2 separate regions of the Homo sapiens genome follow, and region 1 is linked to region 2. Evidence: fine-mapped expression QTL. A gene starts in region 2. The other region holds a variant in brackets. All regions are shown on one strand. Distances are from middle to middle.

Region 1 (5,388 bases), 59 kb after region 2:
GTCTCCAACTCTTGACCTCAGGTGATCTACCCTGCCTTGGCCTTCCAAAGTGCTGGGATTACAGGCATGTGCCACTGTGCCTGGCCTGGTGGAGCTATTTTTTTAATAGCCAGGAATGAAGCCAAAACAGCAATGCAGACCATGCATACAGCCTGTCATTCTTTTTAACAGGTGGGCCTCAAATTGTTCTGTAAGTATTCTAGAAACTAAATGAAAAGAGACATTTGTTTGGTTGTACTATTTAGGGTTCATGAGATTAAAAACAAGCCCATTTTAAGGAGATGCACAATTCATTTTGATACTGTGGCAGGAACAACATTCTTTTCGGGACTCTCATGAATGAGCCCACTGTGTAAAGTAACAGCACCTTCAACCTTCTCATTGCAGACACCTGGGGTTACATTGGTGTTTCTTTTGTGTTTCCCAATGCAGGCTGATAACATCACATCATAGCCCATGCCAGTGAAAATCTTTCAACAGGAAGAGTGAAGAAGAGAGAAAAGGTCAAAAGACTGTTTTACTTCACGAATTTCTGTAGGTCTAGCTTAATTCAGGAGTGAACTTTAGAGTATCTAAATGGGAGGATGAAAAGGATAGATTTCATGCACCTTTGAAAATAATTTTTTTCCGCTAAATTGTGTTTTTGAGAAGTATTACAAGGCAGCAGCATGCTTAATGTTATGCTTCTAGGCAAATGCTTACAGTGTGTGTATCACATATGCCCAATTACACGTGGAACCACAGGCTCTAACAGACACTGGCTTGGGGTAGGGCTGACACAGCCTGTGCAAACTAAGGTGCTGGGAGGATGCTTTCCTGATCCAATGCCTATTCCATTTCTGCTTGGAGGTGAGGAGAAAGAATATTTGTGTGCAAAGGCAGAGGACTGAATTGTGTTTTACTACCTTTGAGCAGTTTTGCAATTACTGTTGCAGAACATGAGAATCAAAGAAGATGGGTGGATGGACCATCATAGTCAAAGTGAGTCATTGCCACAGGCAGAGGGAGGGAGGAAGCAGGATGGTTGGTCTGTGCAGATTCCAAGATACATCTATGTGGGCCTTTCTAATAAAGCATTAATTCATTCTTCCATTATTCATGCAATACATAAATTTTGAGCACTGACATGTGGTAAGCACTGTGCCAGTTAGTGGACATGCCAAGAGAAAAAACACATGGTTTGGGCCTCTTCATATATTTTTGTACTTATCTTCCACAGGTAGAACAATGTTCCTTTTGCATTCGACAGATATTTTGGAGCTCACAATTTGTTTTTCAGCTTCTCACAGCAACGACCTCTGAAGAACAGGGCCTAAGCTTACTAATATGAACACATGATATCAATTTTGTGTTCCAGTAATGACAGAAGTCCTGATGCCAAAGGCAGCATTGTTTTCATTCTCTTGCTTTAAAACTGAGTAATAATATAATGATTAGGAATTACTGTTAGCAACACAGATAAGAGTTAGTCATTCACACTTCCACAGTGGAACAACTGTTGGGAAGCTATAGCTTTATGCTGAATGATTTTGAGTTCTAATTACTGAATCTGAATAGCTGTCTTTAAATGTCAGTAATGGTAGAAAAAGGTTCTTTACTCTTAAGAACCAGTGGGGAATGAGCAGTACAAAATGTTCTTGTTAAAATTTCTCTTCTCTTTTTAAAATAGATGATCAAAGACATCCTAGAGTTCCCATCATTTTAGGAGATGTTTACATACATGAGGAATGGCACATAGGAAGACTCAGACCTTTACAACACCACATGGAAGTCACAGAATAAGAGAACATTCAAGCTGGAAGGCAATGTCTAGCCCAACCTCCTCATTTTGCAGATGAAGGAACTGTTTTAGTGCAGGGGTATTACATATAAACATCACAAGGGCAGAGCAGGTATGGAGTTTGGGGCTCCTCTTACTCAATCTAGTGGCCTGTCAATGGTGTCTAGTAGGGTGCTGGTTGTCCCATTCCTCCTTGCTGTCAGATGTCTATTTCATTGCTGCCATAAGTGTGGCTAGCCCCAGGGGAGGAATGGTGACCATCAAGACAATCACACTCTCCTTTGCCAGGGAGTATGTTCTGGCTTGTGATATGTAATGGGAGCTTTGCTGGTGCTCTTTGGAAAAGTTTTGCCTTGCTGACAACACGCAGGCACTTGAGAACAGAGTCCTTTTGCTAATACCTTCCTTTCTTCTTTGAACAGTCATGGGAGGATATCAGGCTTAGAGCTGTGATAGCTCTTTTGTGATCCTAAGAGGAGATTGTTGCCATGGCACCGAAGTTGCAGACTAGGAGGAGAAAATCAGCCCTATCCTTGTTGAAATCATTGATCTGAGCTAGCCTGGGACTGACTACCTCTTCCTGCTAGGTTAATAGGACTCTCCTTTGGCTTAAGCCAGACAAGAGGGTGCTTGGTATATTCAAGGATAGACAAGGGTCCAATGTGATTGGAGAGCAGTGAATCATAGGGAGAAAAGAAGATGAGGTGAGTAGGTAACAGTAGGCCAGATCAGGTAGGGTTTTATAACATGGTGAAGGTTTTTAGCATTTACTCTGTCGTGTGAGCAGAAGAGTGATTTTATTCTGAGTTATGTGTAACTGGATCACCCTGGCTGATATGTTAAGAAAAGACTGTGAGAGGTTGAAGGTAGAACCAGGGAAACCTGTTGAAACTCTTTTGACACGATCCAGGGAAAAGATGGCAATAGCTTAGACCAGTGTAGTAGTGAAAAAAGTGGCAAGACATCACAGATTCTGGATACATTTTAAAGGTAATGATAAAAATTTTCTTGACATAATAAGGGGAAAGAGAGATAGATATATAGATATTGAAAGAGAGAGAGAGAATGAGAGAGAGAGAGAGTCAAAGATGACCTAGTCTGAACAATGGGAAGGATAAAGTTGTCCTGAACTGAGATGAGGGTGACTTTAGGAGGAATAATTTTAGGGGGAGAAGATCAGAAGTTCTGATATG[A/G]TCAAGTTAAGTTTGAGGTGTGTATTAGACTTATAAATAGAGATGTTGAGTGGACTGTCAGATCTTAAAGCTGCAATTTAGGGGAGAAATCCATGCTGGAGATATACATTCAGAAATTAAAAAAATCATATTGATTGTGTTTAAAGGCATGAAACTCAATGTAATCTGCAAGGAGATTAGTATGGATAGACAAGAGAAGAGACCCAGAGACTGAACTCTAGGGCACTCCAACTATTAGAGGTGGGAGGGATGAAGATAAACTCAAGAATGAGGGTGACCAACCAGGAAGGCAGAAGGGGAATCAGGAGAGAGGGTGGTTCTGGAGGCCAAATGAAGAAGGTTTAGAAGGAGGAAGGAATAATGAACTCTGTCAATAAAGGCAAGTCAATAGACTCAAACCCTCATTCCAGCATACAGGGGGATGACTATGTTGTCTCTTTTTAATATTTTCTGGTAGTTTTGGTAAAAGTGAGGGGATTGTGCTTGCATTTATCCAAATTGCCTTTGCCTCCAAGGTCACCTTATTTAGCGTTCTTAATCTCTACTCTACATTTTGACTCCTCTGTTTACTGTCTCATTTTGTTACCACATCACTATATTGGAAACCTCCCTGACCATCCTCTTACCACAGCCCACCAACTCCAGCATGTGTGTGTTAGATTGAATAGTAGATTTAAGGGCAACTTGCGGATGACATCACAGGGCAGCCCAACACGAAGTTGAATGAATCAGTCAGGGTAGGCTTGGTTATGTTGTAGTAACAAACAGCCCCAAATCTCCATGGCTAAAACCAACAAATGTAACTCATCAAATGGGCAAATAAAATTTGTGCATTTCACTATATGTATATTTTGTCAAAAAAATCACCTGCAAACAAATATTGGGCTCTACTAAGTGATATGCATACTGAAGTGGTTAGGCTGAGATGTACTAATGTCTGCAACTTATTGAAATGTATCCAATAGGTAAAATTAATTGATGGGTGGATAGAGGAATGTACAGATGTGTGATAAAACAAATATAGGAAAATGTTAATTGTAGGATCTAGATGGTGGGTACAGAAAAATTCACTGTAAAATTCTGTTAATTTCTGAATGTTTGAAAACTTCCATAATAAAATTAGAAAAACATCAACAACAAATATAGTTTATGCCGTGCATCACCACAGGTCAGCAGGGGGCTCTGCTCCACACAGACACTCAGGGAACCAGGCTTAAGTAGCCACCATCTCAAATGCTTTGTATCACCATGGCAGAGGGGAAGAGAGCTCTGGAGACAATTAAATGTATTTGATGGAAGTGACACGAGTCATGTCACTTCTTTCAGCTTTTTAGGGAGAACTCATCATATAACCCAACTCAATTATGGGGGTTCAGGAAGTACAAGTCAACCATGTGCTCAGAAGTGGAAATTGTAGAAATATTAGGCAAACATTACTAGTGATATCTAGATGAATAATTAGATGTCCTTGTTCTTTAAAGCCCCTTAGCCATTTCCACTGCTAGAGAATTGTTAATAGTGGTATTTTTATCCCAGTCTCAGCTTCTTGCTGATTTGTTGGGCTCTCTCTTCCTTTGCTTATCCACCTCTTACTTTCCTGTTAATTTCTTGTATAAAACACTTCATACTCCTTAGTTTTAGTTATTCCAGGATATACCTGTGGGGCCTTAAGTCCTTAATGAAGCTCATTTTATTTACTTAATTTTCCCTGAGAAGTATTTCATGATAACCATCAGTGATCACATCCTCCCCTGTCTCCTGCCTGACCAGGGTGCTCATAGCTGGGAGATGCTGTGTGATTCTACCTCTGTGGCTTGGGAGGCAGTTTGCTGTGGTGCTGGAGAGTGTGGAGTCTGCAGACAGGTCACTCCAGCTCCCCCACTTCCTGGCTTCTTGAGGTGGGCAAATGCTTCTCTGTGCATTAGCATCCTCATCTTTAAGATGGAGATGCTAATAATATTTCTTACCTTGTATAATTGTTGTGAGAATTAAATGAGTTAATACATGAAAGTGTTCAGCTTACTAAGGGCTCAATAAGTAGTGGTCATTATTATTATTAGCAGGAAGTAACTTTAGACAGACTACTTAACCTTTCACAACGCTTATCTATGTGTAAAACAAACTCCAGGGGATATAAGCTACTGCATCAAAGTGCTCCTTCATGATTAATTTTTTTTCTGCTTATGTCATGGCTGAAAGAGCTCAAGGAGCAACACAGGTTGGGATTCTGTTCAGATCCCCCTAGAAAGCAGGGCTATTCATATCTACACAGCTCATAGTTGAGGCAGGCTGCTGCCTGATAAGGACTTGACATTGAAAGTTATTTAAGTGTTGGACATAGGCTTCCCTTTTTCCAAATGTTTCCTGGATTCAGTTTGAAGCTGTGAACAACCAAGGTGTTTTGAAAGTTTGAAA
Region 2 (5,388 bases):
GGCAGTTACAGAATAAACATAAGTATTTGATAAACATATGATTAACTGATATATTGAAAAAGACATTTACAACTCATTCACACAAGTACTATTTTTCATACCACTTCAAAACATTCAACCCCAACTCTTCTAGACTGCAGTGAGTTGAAAATTCAGTTGATAAGACCACTTATTTGCTCCAATATTTATCATATGCAAATACAGTAATGCGTGCACAATGACATTTCTGTGAATTAAGGACAACATATACAGTGGCTCCATAAGATTATAACGGAGCTAAAAAATTCCTATCACCTAGTGCCATCAGTAACTGCAATGTCGTAGTGCAACATATTACTCATGTTTGTAGTGATGCTAGTATAAACAAATCTACTGTAATGCCAGTCGTATAAAGTACAGCACACATAATTATGTACAATACATAATACGTGATAATAAACTATGTTACTTGTTTATGTGTTTACTATACTTTTGATCATCATTTTAGAGTTTACTCCTTTTACTTATTAAAAAAAAATGAGTCGACTGTAAAAGAGCCTCAGGGAGAGAGGTATTTTAGAAGGCACTGTTATCATAGGAGATGACAGCTCCATGCCTATTGTTGCCCCTGAAGATCTTCCAGTGGGACAAGATGTGGAAGCGGAAGACAGTGAAACTGAATGTGTCTGTGTCTTTACATTTTTAACAAAAAGCTTAAAAAGAAAAAAAAATAAAATAAAAATCACATAGAATAAGGACAAAAGGAAACTTTTTGTACAGCTGTATGTACAATGTGCTTGTGTTGTAAGCTAAGTGTTATTAAAGTCAAAAGGTTAAAATTTAACAAGTTTATAATGTAAAAGTTACAGCAGGCTAAGGTTAATTTAAGAATAAAAGTATTAAAAAACTCAACAGTGTAGCCCAAGTGTACAGTGTTTATAAAGTCTATAGTGTACAGTAATGTTCTAGGCCTTCACATTCACTCACCGCTCACTGACTCGCTCAGGGTAACTTCCAGTCCTGCAAACTCCATTCATGGTAAGTACTGTATACAGAGGTACCATTTTCTAAATCTCTCATGTCATAGTCTTTTTACTGTACCTTTTCTATGTTTAGATATATTTAGCCATACATACACTTACCATTGTGTTACAATTCTCTGAGTATAGTACAGTAACATGCTGTACAGGATGACAGCTTACGAGCAACAGGCTATATCATGTAGCCTGGGTGTGTAGTAGATTTAGGTTTGTGTAACTAGATAAAGTTCGCAAAACGACAAAAGCCCCTAATGACACATTTCTCACAATGTATCCCCCCTCCTGTTATGCGATGCATGACTGTACCTGAGAATGTCCTTACCAAAGGTTCCCTGTTTGTTTACTGAAAAAGATAAAACACCATCTTTTGTTCAAATTTACTTACATATGCGCTGAAAAGTAGTAATGCTGTAGTATTATTCTATAGGAATTAGAAATACAAGAGTATTTCAAAACATATTCCTAAAATTCACAAACCTATTGCCTCCTGCAGAATTTTTTTTCAATTAATGTCTGTTGAAAACCAACTGGGGCAAGGCACTGTGCCTCCAAACTTTCCCTCGGGGAGTTTGTATCTTAACCTGGACAACAGGTTAACACAATTACTTCAAGATCTGTGGCCCCACTGTCAGGACACTGGGACTGCAAATGAGGTAGGTAAGAAAGGTGACATTCAGATAAAATCCTTTTCATTTAGGTCACTGTGCGGGACACAAATACGTAGAAGCTCTGGTGAGAAAGTGCTACGAGAACGTGTGGAAGTGGGTAGAGGAAGGCAATAGTATCAAAGAAGCTCTGTGGAAACAGCCAGACGGGCTTTTGGGGAAAGAAATACGGGAATTAAATAGATGTGAAAAGTGGGTGGAAATGAGACGTTTCATGCAGCATAACCGGAAATGAGGGATGAGGTGAGGTGCGACTTGCAGGTGGTGAGGGAACCAAAAGCTAAGGTGGAAATGCAAAAGGCAGGGTTAGTCGTAAGCCTAGAAGTGAACGGGGAGTCCTCCCGCTCTAACGTTGTAAGAAGACACTGATTGCTCAGAAAGGTCAGGAGCAGCGCTGGAGCCACGCGACGAGTGGGCAGCAGCGCGGGTCCCGAGTGGAAGCTGCCTTTTCACTCTCCCCAATCACACACGCTGCAGGGGAAGCTGCCTCCGTCACACAGAGCAGCTGGGCCCCCGGCCGCCCGAACGCGCCAGGGCTCGCGCGTGGGTCTTCTGAGCCACCGCGAGTCAACGCATCTCACCCTGAAACTTTAGGTTCCGCTGCCGCAATTTGAGGTTCCGCTTCTCGATCTTCTTACGCAGGAGTTTCATCGGCAGGTGTGACATTCTGCCCAACAAGTGCCTAGAATAAGGCGCCACACAGTACAGCTACTCAGTTCTCAGGCTGACGTTACTTCCCTTCCGGCCGCACGTGCGCAGCTCGGCCAACAGGAAACGCGTCACAGGAACGCTGGCACCCGGCGGAACGAAAATGCTCCAGAGCGGAAATGCTTCCAGACGCGCGCACCGTGATATCTTTGGCGACCAAAATCTTTGCAGCGCCCCCTGGAGAAGTGGAAGCGAGACGCTGCACTGGCTTCACACTGTGCTAAAGCTAACTTGAGCTCCCCCTAGAGGAAGACTGAAGAAAGAACGTGGAGGGGAAGGAGGCCTTAGGGAGTCCGCATTTTTATGTTCCTATCCTCTGTGGGTGCAGAACTAGAGTTGGCCCTCCCTGTACCTGAATTCCCTGTCTGTGGATTCAACCAACTCCCCCATTGAAAACATTAAAAAAAAAACAATTAAAAATAATACAGTGTGATAACTACTTTCATAGCATTTAGGTTGTATAAGGTATTATAAGTCATTTAGAAATGATTTAAAGTATACAGGATGTTGTGTGTAAAATAAATGCAAATATTACACTATTGTATATAAGGGTTTTGAGTATCCTAAGATATTGGTACCCATAGAGGGTCCTGGACTCAATCCCTTGTGGATACTGAGGGACAACTGTATTTGGGAAACTGAATAGAACTAAATTATATATATGCATTTCCAAACTTGTTTGGCCACTCTCCTCAGAAATACAATTTCTGTGTCACTTGGTACACATACACACATAAATATAACATTTCTCAAAATAATATTCTTGCTTTTCACTCTTTTTCCTTCAATTCCATTCATTCCATCCTAAATTATTCTTTTTAGCTTACTAAAAATACTGATTCCTATGAATTTAAATTAACTTTACTACATTAATAATAGGTTGACTGCAGTTTGAAAAAGAGGTTTATATATTCCTTAAGTATACCCAAGGACCCTTCAGCAGTCCAGGACAGAAATTGCAATGTGGCTAGCTAATAGTCATCTCTTTTTTGGGATGGGGAGGAAGACAGGGGTATGCATATAGTATTTAATTTTTAAAAAAATTGTTATCAACATTAAAATACTTGGAGATTTCCATAAAAATTCATATTTGTCTTTAAAAATTGGCCCAATGCCCTCAAATTCCCCTTAACAGTAATCAATTTGAGCTGAACAACTGGAAGAGTCCATGAAACCTGGATTAATTTGTTTACTTGGAGGGGCAGAACATGAGACCCTGGAGATTAGACCTGATCATAGTGAGGAACAGAGAGGGAGAAAACTTGGGAGGGAGTTTAAACAGAATGTGAAGGAATTGACTTCGAAATCACATTGGATTGGACTGGAAAACTAAGACAAACAAATAATAATGTGCTTAGATTAATTTGTTAATGATCAGGCAGGCTGAAGAATGATTCAGAAATGTAAGAGCGCACACACACACGCAAACATTTATCTCAGTGTAAATATATATGCCAGTTTAAATTTATGCATATATCAGTATATATATGCATATACACATATGTATCTATTTCTATAGCTCTATGTACATACATATATATTTACCTGATTACATGTGTGAGTTTTGGGTCTGTGACTTTGAAATAGATACAACTGAAGTATATATAGAAAGTGCTCAAAATTTGTTATTTCTTTTATGTTGTAACTTAAATTTGTGGGGCTATGTTTTGGTAGTAGTAATGGAAAGGTACTCCCTTTTTTCTAGAGTGTGACTTTTTCTAGCTAGTAGTGAAGATTGGCAGTCATTTCCTCAAAACCAAAAAAACCCACATTTACGAGGTGTTTAAGACATTTAGATCAGAGAAGCCGATCCTTTCAGGTGCATGGAAATGCTTAACGTTAGGGATTGATAACCTTTTAAGAAACATAGATAAAGCTACTGATGCCAATTCTTCTGGATTTTTAGAAGAAGAATGAGAAATTATAACTTCAAATCAACTCTCAAAATTAGGGTTGAGAGTTATTTTTAACAGAGTGAATTTCCAAGGCCACATCATCAGTTACTCTAGCAAAGAAAACAATGTCATTGGGTTAGCTACTCAAAAATTACCTGTGAGGATGAGGTAACAATCACGTGCTTCTGAAAAGCCTGTTGTTCTTCACAGCTGGAGCCTATCCCAGTATCTATTCAGAATGCGTTTCAGTCTTTAAAACTTCTTGCTTGGGCTCTCCATCACAGAGGTCTCTCTCTTCAGAATATGGTCATTCGCCATAAAACAATCGCATAATATAGTCATTATGCAACTATTTTTTGAGCATTTTTGTGCTAAGAGTGTGTGGTAGGCATGTGCCAAATCCTGGGTATAAAATGGTGGACAAGATAGACCTGGCTCGCCTAGGTGGAGCTTACAGAGCTTACAAGGAAGACAGAAAATTAAACGATTATGGTAAACTATGATGAATGCAGTGAAAAGGAAGCACATCACAGGAGCAACATCCTAGCCTTGGGAAGGGGTCTGGGGATGGAGTCTGTCATTCAATATTCATTATGCATAGGGACTGAGCCAGCAGCAGGCAGAAGCAGGAAGGGAGTTGCTGTCTTTTTTTTGTTGGTTTGTTTGTGTGTTTTGAGACAGAGTTTTGCTCTTGTTGCCCAGGCTGGAGTTCAATGGCGCGAACTTGGCTTACCGCAACCTCCGCCTCTGGGTTCAAGTGATTCTCCTGCCTCAGCCTCCCAAGTAGCTGGGATTACAAGCATGCACCACTATACCCAGATAATTTTGCATTTTTAGTAGAGACAGGGTTTCTCCATGTTATTCACGCTGGTCTCGAACTCCTGACCTCAGGTGATCCATCCGCCTCAGCCTCCTAAAGTGCTGAGATTACAGGCATGAGCCACCGCACCTGGCCAGGAGTTTCTGTCTTTTACCTCCTGACTAAAAATAATTAAGTTTAACATAGAACAGGTCTTATTCATGCTGTTTTGTTTTTCAGTTTTCACTTGAGATCCTTAAACCTGAGACAAGTGTTTGTAAAATAAAACGCAGATTTGTGTA

Direction of the effects. Alleles are on the strand shown, and positions count from the first base shown. SD is a standard deviation of normalised expression in the study named.
In carriers of allele A in region 1, the expression in minor salivary gland of the gene that starts at base 2,437 in region 2 tends to be higher than with G alone (small effect, 0.24 SD a copy in GTEx).

Evidence for each region. PIP is the estimated chance that this variant, and not a neighbour inherited with it, causes the effect.
Region 1: its variant is the best candidate, but not a certain one, in a credible set for the expression of DDX18 in minor salivary gland (GTEx, PIP 0.50).

The regions. Positions count from the first base shown.
Region 1 is chr2:117,752,819-117,758,206 of GRCh38, reverse strand. LOC124907878 (a long non-coding RNA gene) reads left to right here. Exons shown (of 2, transcript XR_007087210.1): 2 at 433-4,114. Among named protein-coding and RNA genes, the nearest start is that of DDX18, 59 kb to the left of the region's middle. The variant A/G (reference allele first, on the strand shown) is at 2,974.
Region 2 is chr2:117,811,740-117,817,127 of GRCh38, reverse strand. It overlaps DDX18 (DEAD-box helicase 18), which reads right to left and starts at 2,437. Exons shown (of 14, transcript NM_006773.4): 1 at 2,266-2,437. The coding sequence starts at 2,350. RefSeq lists enhancers at 1,580-2,115, 2,191-2,240, 2,261-2,310, 2,441-2,570, 2,116-2,653 and 1 more.